Regions from separate parts of the Homo sapiens genome. Here region 2 is linked to region 1. Evidence: fine-mapped expression QTL. A gene starts in region 1. The other region holds a variant in brackets. All regions are shown on one strand. Distances are between the middles of the regions. Region 1 holds the start of SLC25A12 (solute carrier family 25 member 12). Region 2 overlaps METAP1D (methionyl aminopeptidase type 1D, mitochondrial).

The links.
Region 2: its variant is fine-mapped to the expression of SLC25A12 in amygdala (GTEx, PIP 0.99).

What each region holds. Positions count from the first base shown.
Region 1 is chr2:171,891,411-171,896,794 of GRCh38, forward strand. SLC25A12 (solute carrier family 25 member 12) reads right to left here and starts at 2,834. Exons shown (of 18, transcript NM_003705.5): 1 at 2,793-2,834; 2 at 1,795-1,848. The coding sequence starts at 2,804. RefSeq lists enhancers at 2,480-3,046, 3,047-3,613 and a silencer at 2,757-3,076.
Region 2 is chr2:172,033,784-172,039,167 of GRCh38, forward strand. All of the region lies in intron 1 of METAP1D (methionyl aminopeptidase type 1D, mitochondrial), which reads left to right. Among named protein-coding and RNA genes, the nearest start is that of METAP1D, 37 kb to the left of the region's middle. The variant G/A (reference allele first, on the strand shown) is at 2,407.

The DNA.
Region 1 (5,384 bases):
CAGTATATTTTTTTCCCATAGAATTTTTAAAGCTAGAAAGACCTCAATTCCCATTCCTTTATGTCCCACTGAGTCCCACATGAGAAGCTGAAACTCAGGAAGGCCAGATGATTAGCCTAAGGGTACAAGAACCAGATAAATGCAGGGCTGGGAATTAACTCCGTATTCCTAGGCAGTACTCAGATACCTAGGCAGTATTCTTTTCACTACATCATGCAGCATTTCAACTCATTTCTTCCGCATCTACTTAGTCTAGAACATAAAATTAACTATATCACATGAACTCTTCACAAAACAATTGACTATAATCACATGGTATGGTGAATACCGATATATTTTTGGCTATTTTCAAGAATGCCTGCAAGGAATAAAGGTTTCAAGTCATAAATGGACCATTTCTGTTATTATAATTACTTCTGTTCTGGAAAAAAATACTTCCCTTATCAGATATTATGACCTTTAAGATTCCCATTTTCACAAATTATTTTTCATAAACTACACATATGTATGCTCAACTACGCAGCGTCTTACCCAACAATAGCTTAAGCAAACCACATATCTCAAATAAAAATGTCATCTATTCCAGGCTCATCAGCATATGTTAGAATCTGTTCCTAAAATAGACTCATAGACTTTTGGAATGGGAAGGAACCTTGGAGATCACCTCTCATTTCACAGAGGAAAATAATACACAGCAGGGACCTGCCCAAGGTCAAAGTGTCTTCATAAGAACCCAGGTCCAGAATAGAAAGTTCTCAAAAGATTTCAGAGAGAAATGCAATATTTGGTGAAACACCTTAGCTTGCCTCCCTTTACATCTACTTTTTTTTTTTTTTGAGACAGTGTCTCTCTGTCCCCAGGCTGGAGTGCAGTGGCACGATCTCGACTCACTGCAAGCTCCGCTTCCCGGGTTAACGCCATTCTCCTGCCTCAGCCTCCCGAGTAGCTGGGACTACAGGCGCCCACCACCACGCCCGGCTAATTTTTTGTATTTTTAGTAGAGACGGGGTTTCACCGTGTTAGCCAGGATGGTCTCGATCTCCTGACCTCATGGTCCACCCGCCTCGGCCTCCCAAAATACTGGAATTACAGGCGTGAGCCACCGCGCCCGGCCTACATCTACTTCTTAAGTACAATTTCCTGCATAGGAAACTTTTGAAATTTAAGAAAAGAAAGCAAAACAAAAAACTAAGCCAACCTTTTTTTTTTCTTTTTTCTTTTCTTTTTAAGTCTACAGCCAAGTCACTGATTCTAAAAGCTTAGAAGTTAAGGTAGACCATTGCAAGAATCTTAAGAGGTAACATTTTGGGGTAAAATCCCCAAGGCTTAAGGATACAATGTAAGTAAGACACACAAATTAAGAATAGCTATAATATTCTTATCTCTGTAACAAATTACATGGAGGATAGCTCATAAGTAGGAAAACTTTGTAAACATGCAACTTTCAAGGAAGAGAATTTTAGTCATCATACCTATTAACTATACAAGAATGCCAATACATTTTGAAATTTTATCTTGGTCTCTGTGCTTAAGCTGGAAATTTTTTTTCAAAATATATATCTTAAGTCATGTAAAAAAAAAAGCAGTAACTTGAGGAAAACCTTTTATCGACCCTTAATTAAAAGAAGGCCTTAAATCAAACCTTATTAAGAGAAGTATAAGCTATATTGTCCGGTCATGTTTGAAAGAATACATGAAAACTGAACATTCCTCAAAGTTAAGGCATGAATAGGACTAAGGACATGTACGTTTTTTGTTTTTGCAATGAAAGGCACACTATGCAAGCCAATTTACCTGTAGAAATATGTTTCTTAACTCATGAGGATCCCCTCGCTTAGTTGTCTGCACCTGTAAGCAAAAAAGAAAAAAAAGCCAGTTAATGCTTCACTAGAGACCACACAATCTCTTCAGATTAGAGGTCACATGGCTAACAATCAATGCTCCTATCTTTTATCATTTAGTTTAAAACAAACTAAAAGCCCTAATTGCTGATAAGAACTGTCAAACTGGATAACTGTGACTAGAGGGCAGAAAAACAGGTGCGAATAGCCTAAGATACAGCAAAGCTATCGGACAGTGCTTCCTCTGGACTGGAAAGGGAAGGCAATGAGGATCTTTTACTTTATTCCACATCTACTAGCAACACAGTAGTAACCACCCACCTTCAAATCAAGAAGCTAACAAGAGTAGATCAACAGGAAAGTTAAATCACCCAAATTAATCACTTGGCCTAGCAGCCTTTCTCCATAAAAAGCAAACCCAACATGTAATTATCTCCGCGTCCCTCTCCCCATCCAACCTAAAATATGAGAGCTGCCACAAATACAAATACTTTCCATACCCTGCAATCTGCAACGCAAAAGCCAACCACTGCCCTCGGCCTTATTGAGGCCCCAAATTACTCAATACTTACTCCCTCCCCCACCGCAATTCACTGATACCCTAGGTATCCCCAGCTTTACTTGCCACTTCCTCCCACACCCTTTCTGATGCCCTCCAACTCCGGACTCACAATCCCATGCACCTAGGACAGGACATTACTCTTCCTTCACTGACCCGTGTTACCGTACAAGCCCCTTCAACTCACAATCCCTCCTCCTTCCCCTCCCCCAGCCGGGCATCCCCTCCTCCGGTCCAAGCCCCGCACAGCTCTCCCCGCAGCAAGCCGGAGCCCCAGGACAAGCTATCTAAGACCTAGACAATGAATAAAATGGGAAGCAGTGGGGGGCTGCAGGCAGGGCGCTCGGAATGTCTCTTATGCAATAAAAGCAGCAGCAGAGAGTTGGAGTCACCTTGACCGCCATGCTGTGCTCGGAAGCCGGGGACGAGCGAGTGAGCGAGCAGGGCCGAGCTGTCAGGGCGCGCGCGCGCCGTCTTCCCGGCCGCGCCCGCCCTCCCTCTCGCCGGCGCCGCGCGCGTCCCTATGCAAATGAACTCGGGGCGCGCCGCGTGCGGAAAGGGGCCCGGCGTCCCGGCCAGAAAGGCAGCTGGTCCAGGGCCGGCCGGCCGGGCGGAGGAGGGGGACGCGCCTCCCACGGGGAAAACAAGCGCGACCCATGGGATCCCGACGCGCCGCGTGGTTGCCACAGCTAGGTCGCCGCCAGGAAAGCCCCAGGTTTCCTAAGGCCTCTTAGTGGGTGTGGCTTTGGGCACCGACCAGCCAAAGTCGTTTTCCCCGAGGCTTAAAGGAACATTTGGGGCCTATACTGAGCAAGGTTCCGACGGATCAAAGAGCACTTCCCATTAATAACAATGAATTAATGACAACTGATGGCAAATACCGACAAAACAAGATTGGGAACCACTCACTCTAGGGAAAACCTACGTAAACATAATTTGAGAAATATGCTCCTAAATTGGCATGGGACGAATACGCTGAATTTATTTTTGCTTTGCGTGCTATTACAACGGTTTATTAGTAGACTCGCTCCACTTTCCTAATCACCCAAATCCTGTGTGCAATGAGAAAAAAAACTCTATGTGTCTTTGACAGGGCTGGCAATGAATCGCTTGCCCATACATGAACAGAAAGTAATTCTCCATTCGATTTCTAGCCCTACCTAAGAAGTAGAAGAAGCAGTAACTCTATCTTGAACCAAAACAATGTTTCTAAACCCGTCTTGCCAATATCACTGTATTAGGCTACATATTGATTCAAACATGTATGGGCATCCATTATATGCCTGACATGGTCCTGCTTGTAAAAAACGCAAATAACCTATAGCCCCCACCCTCTAGGGGCTTACAGATGGTCAATGCTTCTCCACAACCCCAATCACATGTGTATTGTGTGTATGTGTGTCTGTGTGTGTGTGTGTTGAGACTGAGTCTCGCTCTGTCGCCCAGGCTGGAGTGCAGTGGCACCATCTTGACTCACTGCAACGTCCACCTCCCAGGTTCAAGAGATTCTCTTGCCTTGGCCTCCCGAGTAGCTGGGATTACAGGCACCCGCCGCAATGCCCAGTTAATTTTTTGTATTTTTAGTAGAGACAGGGTTTCACTATGTTGGCCAGGTTTGTCTCAAACTTCTGACCTCTGGTGATCCGCCCACCTCGGCTTCCCAAAGTGCTGGGATTACAGGCGTGAGCCACCGCGCCCGACCCTGTGTATGTTTTCATTTTTAATTTTTTGAGACGGAGTCTCGCTCTATCGCCCAGGCTGGAGTGCAGTGGCGCCATCTTGGCTCACTGCAACCTCTGCCTCCTGGGTTCAAGCAATTCTCCTGCCTCAGCCTCCCAAGTAGCTGGGATTACAGGTGCACGCCACCATGCCTGGCTAATTTTGTATTTTTAGTAGCTATGGGGTTTCGCCCAAGCCACTTATAATTAGACACTAGATAAATGACACACTTTAGGGCTTCTCTATACTGTACAACTATTCTCCCTATATGAACATTTGCTGTCATTGAAATAAATTCTCGTTTTGGTGGAAATGGAAGAGAGGGGTATCAAAAATCAGAAGAAATAGTTGTACTCCTGCAGTTATGTCTTTTCCTGAACTGTCTTCCTCACAGCCTGACTCTAAATCCTATAAATTATGCAGTGGAGATGATGGTGATCTTATTTTTGGACCACAGCCTTCTTTATTCCCTTGGTGAAGCAATAACAAACAGTTTTCTTTTCAGTGAATTTTGGAAGGAATTCATGGAATGAGCTGCTCTAGACATATATGGCTGTGAGTACTCTATCACTATACTAATTATGTATAACCTGGTATTTAGTAGGACACTATATAATCAGATGGAGGATTGAACTAGATGAGCTTTAATGCTTCTTCAAACACTCTAATTTCATGATTTAAAAGGAGCCAAATTTTAGTTAATAAACATTTATTGAGTGCCTTGCGTTTGTGTAAAACATGTGTTGCAGCCGGGTGCAGTGGCTCACACCTGTAATCCCAGCACTTTGGGAGGCCAAGGCGGGTGGATCACAAGGTCAGGAGTTCAAGACCAGCCTGTCCAATATGGTGAAACCCCCTCTCTACAAAAATACAAAAATTAGCTGGGTGTGGTGGCGTGCACCTGTAGTCCCAGCTACTCAGGAGGCTGAGACAGAAGAATCTCTTGAGGCCAGGCACGGTGGCTCACACGTGTAATCCTAGTGCTTTGGGAGGCCAAGGCGGGTGGATTGCCTGAGCTCAGGAGTTCAAGACCAGCCTGGGCAACACAGTGAACCCTGTCTCTACTAAAATACAAAAAAGTTAGCCAGGTGTGGTGGTGTGCACCTGTAGTCCCAGCCACTCGGGAGGCTGAGACAGGAGAATTGCTAGAACCCGGGAGGTGGAGGTTGAAGTGAGCTGAGATTGTGCCACTGCACTCCAGCCTGGGCAACAGAGCGAGACTCTGTCTCTGGGAAAAAAAAAAAAAAAAAAGCCCGGGCACAGTG
Region 2 (5,384 bases), 140 kb after region 1:
AAGAGTTCTCATCACAGGCCGGGTATGGTGGCTCACGGCCTCCAGCACTTTGGGAGGCCGAGGCGGGGGGGATCACGAGGTCAGGGATTTGGGACCAGCCTGGCCAACATGGTGAAACCCTGTCTCAACTAAAAATACAAAACATTAGCTGGCAGTGGTGGTGCGTGCCTGTAATCCCGGCTACTCGGGAGGCTGAGGTAGGAAAATCACTTGAACCCAGGAGGCGGAGGTTGCGGCGAGTGGAGATCATGCCATTGTACTCCAGTCTGGGCAACAGAGCAAGACTTCATCTCAAAAAAAAAAAAAAAAACAAAAGTCCTCATCTTTTGGATGTACACATGGAAATATTTACAGTTGAAATTATATGATATCTGAATAGGCTTCAAAATTATCCAGTGGGAAGGGATGATGGTTATGGATGAAACAAGATTGGCCATCTATTGGCCATTGTTGAAGCTGAATGATAGATACATGGGGATTTGTTACACTAATCTACTTTTGTGTGTTTTTGAAATTTTCTATAATAAAAAGTTTTTAAAATAGGCTTAGGTAAATCCCAGATTTGCCACTTGTAAATTTGTGATCGTGGACAAATTCATTAGCCTCCATAAGTCTCAGTTTTTGTGTGTGTGTGTGTGTGTGTGTGTGTTATTTCTGGTTAGGGCGTTGCCTATAAAATAGGTACAAGGTTATTTTCCCAGTTTACCACCTGGTCCGGGTTGTTGTGCCAAACTTAATAATATGTATGATGTTACTTTGTAAATTGCCACAAATATATCAACTGTTTTATTATTATGAAGTTCCTGAAAGGATCCAGGTTTTCTGCTTAGAAAATTTAGTAGCTTTTTCTGCTTCAACAAGCAGTATGGCTGTCTACATAGATTATATCAACTAAAAAGCTCTGGAATAAGAATATAATTATGTATCCAACAAGGGTTTTATCAATTAGTTTGTAGTAATAGAGTAATTATAAGACTTCATTTTAAAAAATTTGCAAATATAAATTTCTCATGGCCTAGTAAATTAAATGTCGTGTAGACAACTGTGCTATTAATGTTTTCCCTGTATAGTAAGAATTGTGAATTATTTCTGATTTCTTATTTTTCTTGATTGGAAGAAATTGCTTGAATTTAACACATCAATAAAGATTTTAAATTTATTCCTTCAAAATATAGAGAAACCCTGATTGTTAGAATTTTTTTCTTTTTTTTTTTTTTGTTGTTTTATTTTCTAATTCTGGCCTCATTTCTTCCTTCCTAACTCCCAGCATTTTATTGTGAAATATGTAGAGAGAAACGTGTAAAAGAAATATACAATTTAATGAATGATTATGAAGCAAATACCTATGTAACTACTGTACTGTGTTTTTTTTTTGTTTGTTTGTTTGTTTGTTTGTTTTGAGACGGAGTCTCGCCCTGTCACCCAGGCTGGAGTGCAGTGGCCCGATCTCAGCTCACTGCAAGCTCCGCCTCCCGGGTTCACGCCATTCTCCTGCCTCAGCCTCCCGAGTAGCTGGGACTGCAGGCGCCGGCCACCACGCCCGGCTAACTTTTTGTATTTTTAGTAGAGATGGGGTTTCACCGTATTAGCCAGGATGGTCTCCATCTCCTGACCTCGTGATCCTACCGCCTCCGCCTCCCAAAGTGCTGGGATTACAGGTGTGAGCCACCACCCCCGGCCTACTGTACTGTGTTTTAAGAAAAATCAGAATATCACCAGCACCTCAGAAAACCTCTGCATGCTTCTTCCCAGTCCAAATCTCTTTCATCCCCTGGGTAGCCACTATCCTGACTTTAGTAGTATTCACTTTCTTGCTTACCTTTATAGTTTTACCACTTGTGTATAGATTCCTAAACAGTGTGATTTTGTTTGTTTGTTTGTTTTGAGACAGGGTCTTCTTTGTCACCCAGGCTGGAATGCAGTGGCATGATCACAGCTCACTGCATCCTCAACCTACCAGGCTCAAGTGATCCTCCCACCTCCACCTCCCAAGTAGCTGGGACCACAGATGCATGCCATCATGCCTGGCTAATTTTTAATTTTTTTTAGAGACAGAGTCTTCCTATGTTGCCCAGGCTGATCTCGAATGCTTGGGCTCAAGCAGTCCTCCCACCTCTGTCTCCCAAAGTGCTAAGATTACAGGTGTGAGAGACCACACTGGGACTGATTTTTATATTTTAAGGATCCATTTATATTGTATCTGTAGTGAATTCATTTTTTTTGCTGTATAGTCTTCTGTTTTAAGAATTTATGGCTGGGCATGATGGTTCATGCCTGTAATGCCAGCACTTTGGGAGGCCAAGGTGGGCGGATCACTAGGTCAGGAGATCAAGACCATCCTGGCTAACACGGTGAAACCCCGTCTCTACTAAAAATACAAAAAGTTAGCTGGGCGTGGTGGCGGGT[G/A]CCTGTAGTCCCAGCTACTTGGGAGGCTGAGGCAGGAGAATGGCGTGAACCCGGGAGGCGGAGCTTGCAGAGAGCCGAGATCGCGCCATTGCACTCCAGCCTGGGCGACAGAGCGAGACTCTGTCTCAAGAAAAAAAAAAAAAGAATTTACTGTAATTTATTCTGTAGTTGATGGACATCTGGGTTGTTTCCACCTTTTTCTTTTTTTTTTTGTCGCCCAGGCTGAAGTGCAGTGGCGTGATCTTGGCTCAATGCAAGCTCCGCCTTCCGGGTTCACGCCATTCTCCTGCCTCAACCTCCCAAGTAGCAGGGACTACAGGCGCCTGCCACCACGCCCGGCTAATTTTTTGTATTTTTAGTAGAGACGGGGTTTCACAGTGTTAGCCAGGATGGTCTCGATCTCCTGACCTCGTGATCCGCCTGTCTCGGCCTCCCAAAGTACCGAGATTACAGGCGTGAGCCACCGCACCCGGCCCGTTTCCACCTTTTTCTATTACAAACAGTCTGAGTATGTCTTTTGGATGCACTTCTGTATGCATTTCTTTTATGTGTATACCTAGGATTGAATTAGTGACTTCATAATTGACAGGCAGTTTTCCAAGGTGGTTGTACCAGTTGACTCTCCAGCAGTATTCGAGAGATCTTGTTTTCCCACATCTTCAACCTGTACTTGGCATTGTCAGACTTTTAAATGCTTTATTTTAAAATATTATTAGTAAAACAACATAGATAAGTTTACTGTTGTCTATTACTTACATGTACTTGTAATGTTAAAGTCTAGGTTTTATGGCTGCGGGCGGTGGCTCACGCCTGTAATTCCAGCACTTTGGTAGGCCAAGGTGGGCGGATCACTTGAGGTCGGGAGTTCAAGACCAGCCTGACCAACATGGAGAAACCCTGTCTCTACTAAAAATACAAAAACATTAGCTGGGCATGGTGGTGCATACCTATAATCCCAGCTGCTTGGGAGGCTGAGACAGGAGAATCGCTTGAACCCGGGAGGCGGAGGTTGCTGTAAGCCAAAATCGTGCCGTTGCACTCCAGCCTGGGCAACAAGAGGGAAACTCCATCTCAAGAAAAAAAAAAAGTCTAGGTTTTACTTGGGGTGTGTGTGTGTGTGTGTGTGTGAATATTTCAGAGGTACAGAGACTCTTTCTGGTCATCGATATCTACTTGCTAAATTACGTCTTCCTACCTAACAACTGCTACGCTAGAGACCAGAAAAAAAAATAGTAAAGCTTTAAAAAAGGAGAGAGCATTTTTGTACCTTTTTCACTTGTGATATTAAACCTATGAGTGATAGCTCAATTTATCAATTGCTACATGCCAGGCGCTGTGCTAATGAACTCTTAAGACATGTAAACTCATTTAATCTTTACAACAGTTTTTTATTTCCCCATTTTTTAACAGATGAAGAAACTGAGGCATTAAATGGTTAAGTAACTTGCTGAAGATTGTAAGCTAGTAAATCATAGAGCCAGAGCTGAAGCTCAACAGTTGAGCTTCACTGGTTCCATCTGGGTTCTGAACACTTAATATCTAGACCTCCTACCCCGTTGGTGAGTTCTGGTTAGTGACATTAGTCCTCCAGAGCCACCATGTTTTGTCTCCGGGTGGCTGTATTTGAGCTTGACATGTTGTTTCTGGTGCTAACAGTTAGGAAAGCAGGGTTGCTTGAACTTCAAGACAGAGACTTACTTCCTTTCACTTGTTGTAGAAGTTGAAAGAAGCTGAAGCAGCATGAGAATCCTGGCTCTGGGGCTGGTACAGCTATTACAGGAAGGGACAGGACTTGGCCCTCTCTTCTCCTCTCTAGATTTTCCTGGGGGTACTCAGCCTTCATCTTCTGCCACTTAGGGTTTGAGTGGAAATGGCCGAGAATATGTGGTAGGAAGCAGTAAAGTGGACGTTTCAATTTCCTTAATTGTCCAAAAATGTGGAATATGTTATCCTTTAGAAACCATGTTGTAAATGGCAGCAACATTCCCAGGCCAGCTCAAAAAACCTATAATGTGGCCAAAATATATGCTTACAGCTGTATTGTTTCCTAGTTTTTTGTTTTCATTGCAATTGTGTAGCATTTTATTTGTCTTATGAGCTACTGGGCTAGCTGAGAACTTAGCCACATTGTTTATGTCGGAAAATGCATTCCAAACAGCTAAGACCACGTATTTATCTTAGTGTAGAGCTAACTATCCATAGCTTAGATCATTGACTACCTGAACACTCTGCTCCAAGTAAACTGAACAATACCATCACCAATTTTTTGACGGTAAAGAGAAAAACATCTCAGTAAGATAGAGAAACATTTTCTATGGATTTACTGTGACCGAGACCAAATTTTAATTAGCTAGGATATTTTTTAAATTGTAGCATTATATAAATGCATCTGTTTTTCATTTGTTACATATGGGTTTTTATTTACCCACCCTCCTAAAACATTGAAATATATTCATGTAGCTACCTGAACCACTTGTAGATCTTCAGACTTGTGCGGCAAAAGGAATGATAATTATAATCTGCTTCAGGCTACAGGCTAGAATAATTCAAAAGGAAATGTGCATTACTAATGCAGCAGAGCTCATAAATTCTCAATGTCAGTTTGCCATTTATGCAGTCAGTCTGGTTGGCCAGAGGCAAAAAGACTAGGGTTACATAATATTTATGAGGTCTGAAGTTAGCCATCACCAAAGCCAAATATTGCCAGTGTTTCAGATTACTCATTAAAGTCAGCATCATCTAGTCACGCCAATGGAGTTGGGAGCAGGGTGGATTTGGTAGTGATGAAACATTAGTTATAAGTATAAATTCTGTCCATTTTAGTCCACTACTACCTCCTTTACAGGATTTATAGCCTTCCTATTTTATATATTATCCCTGAGATGCCTACCTAAGGAGGGTTCCCATACCATTCTGCAAAAATCTACTTGCCACCTAAGGTTTCATAACACAAAAGTGGGAATGGGACTTTCTTTGCT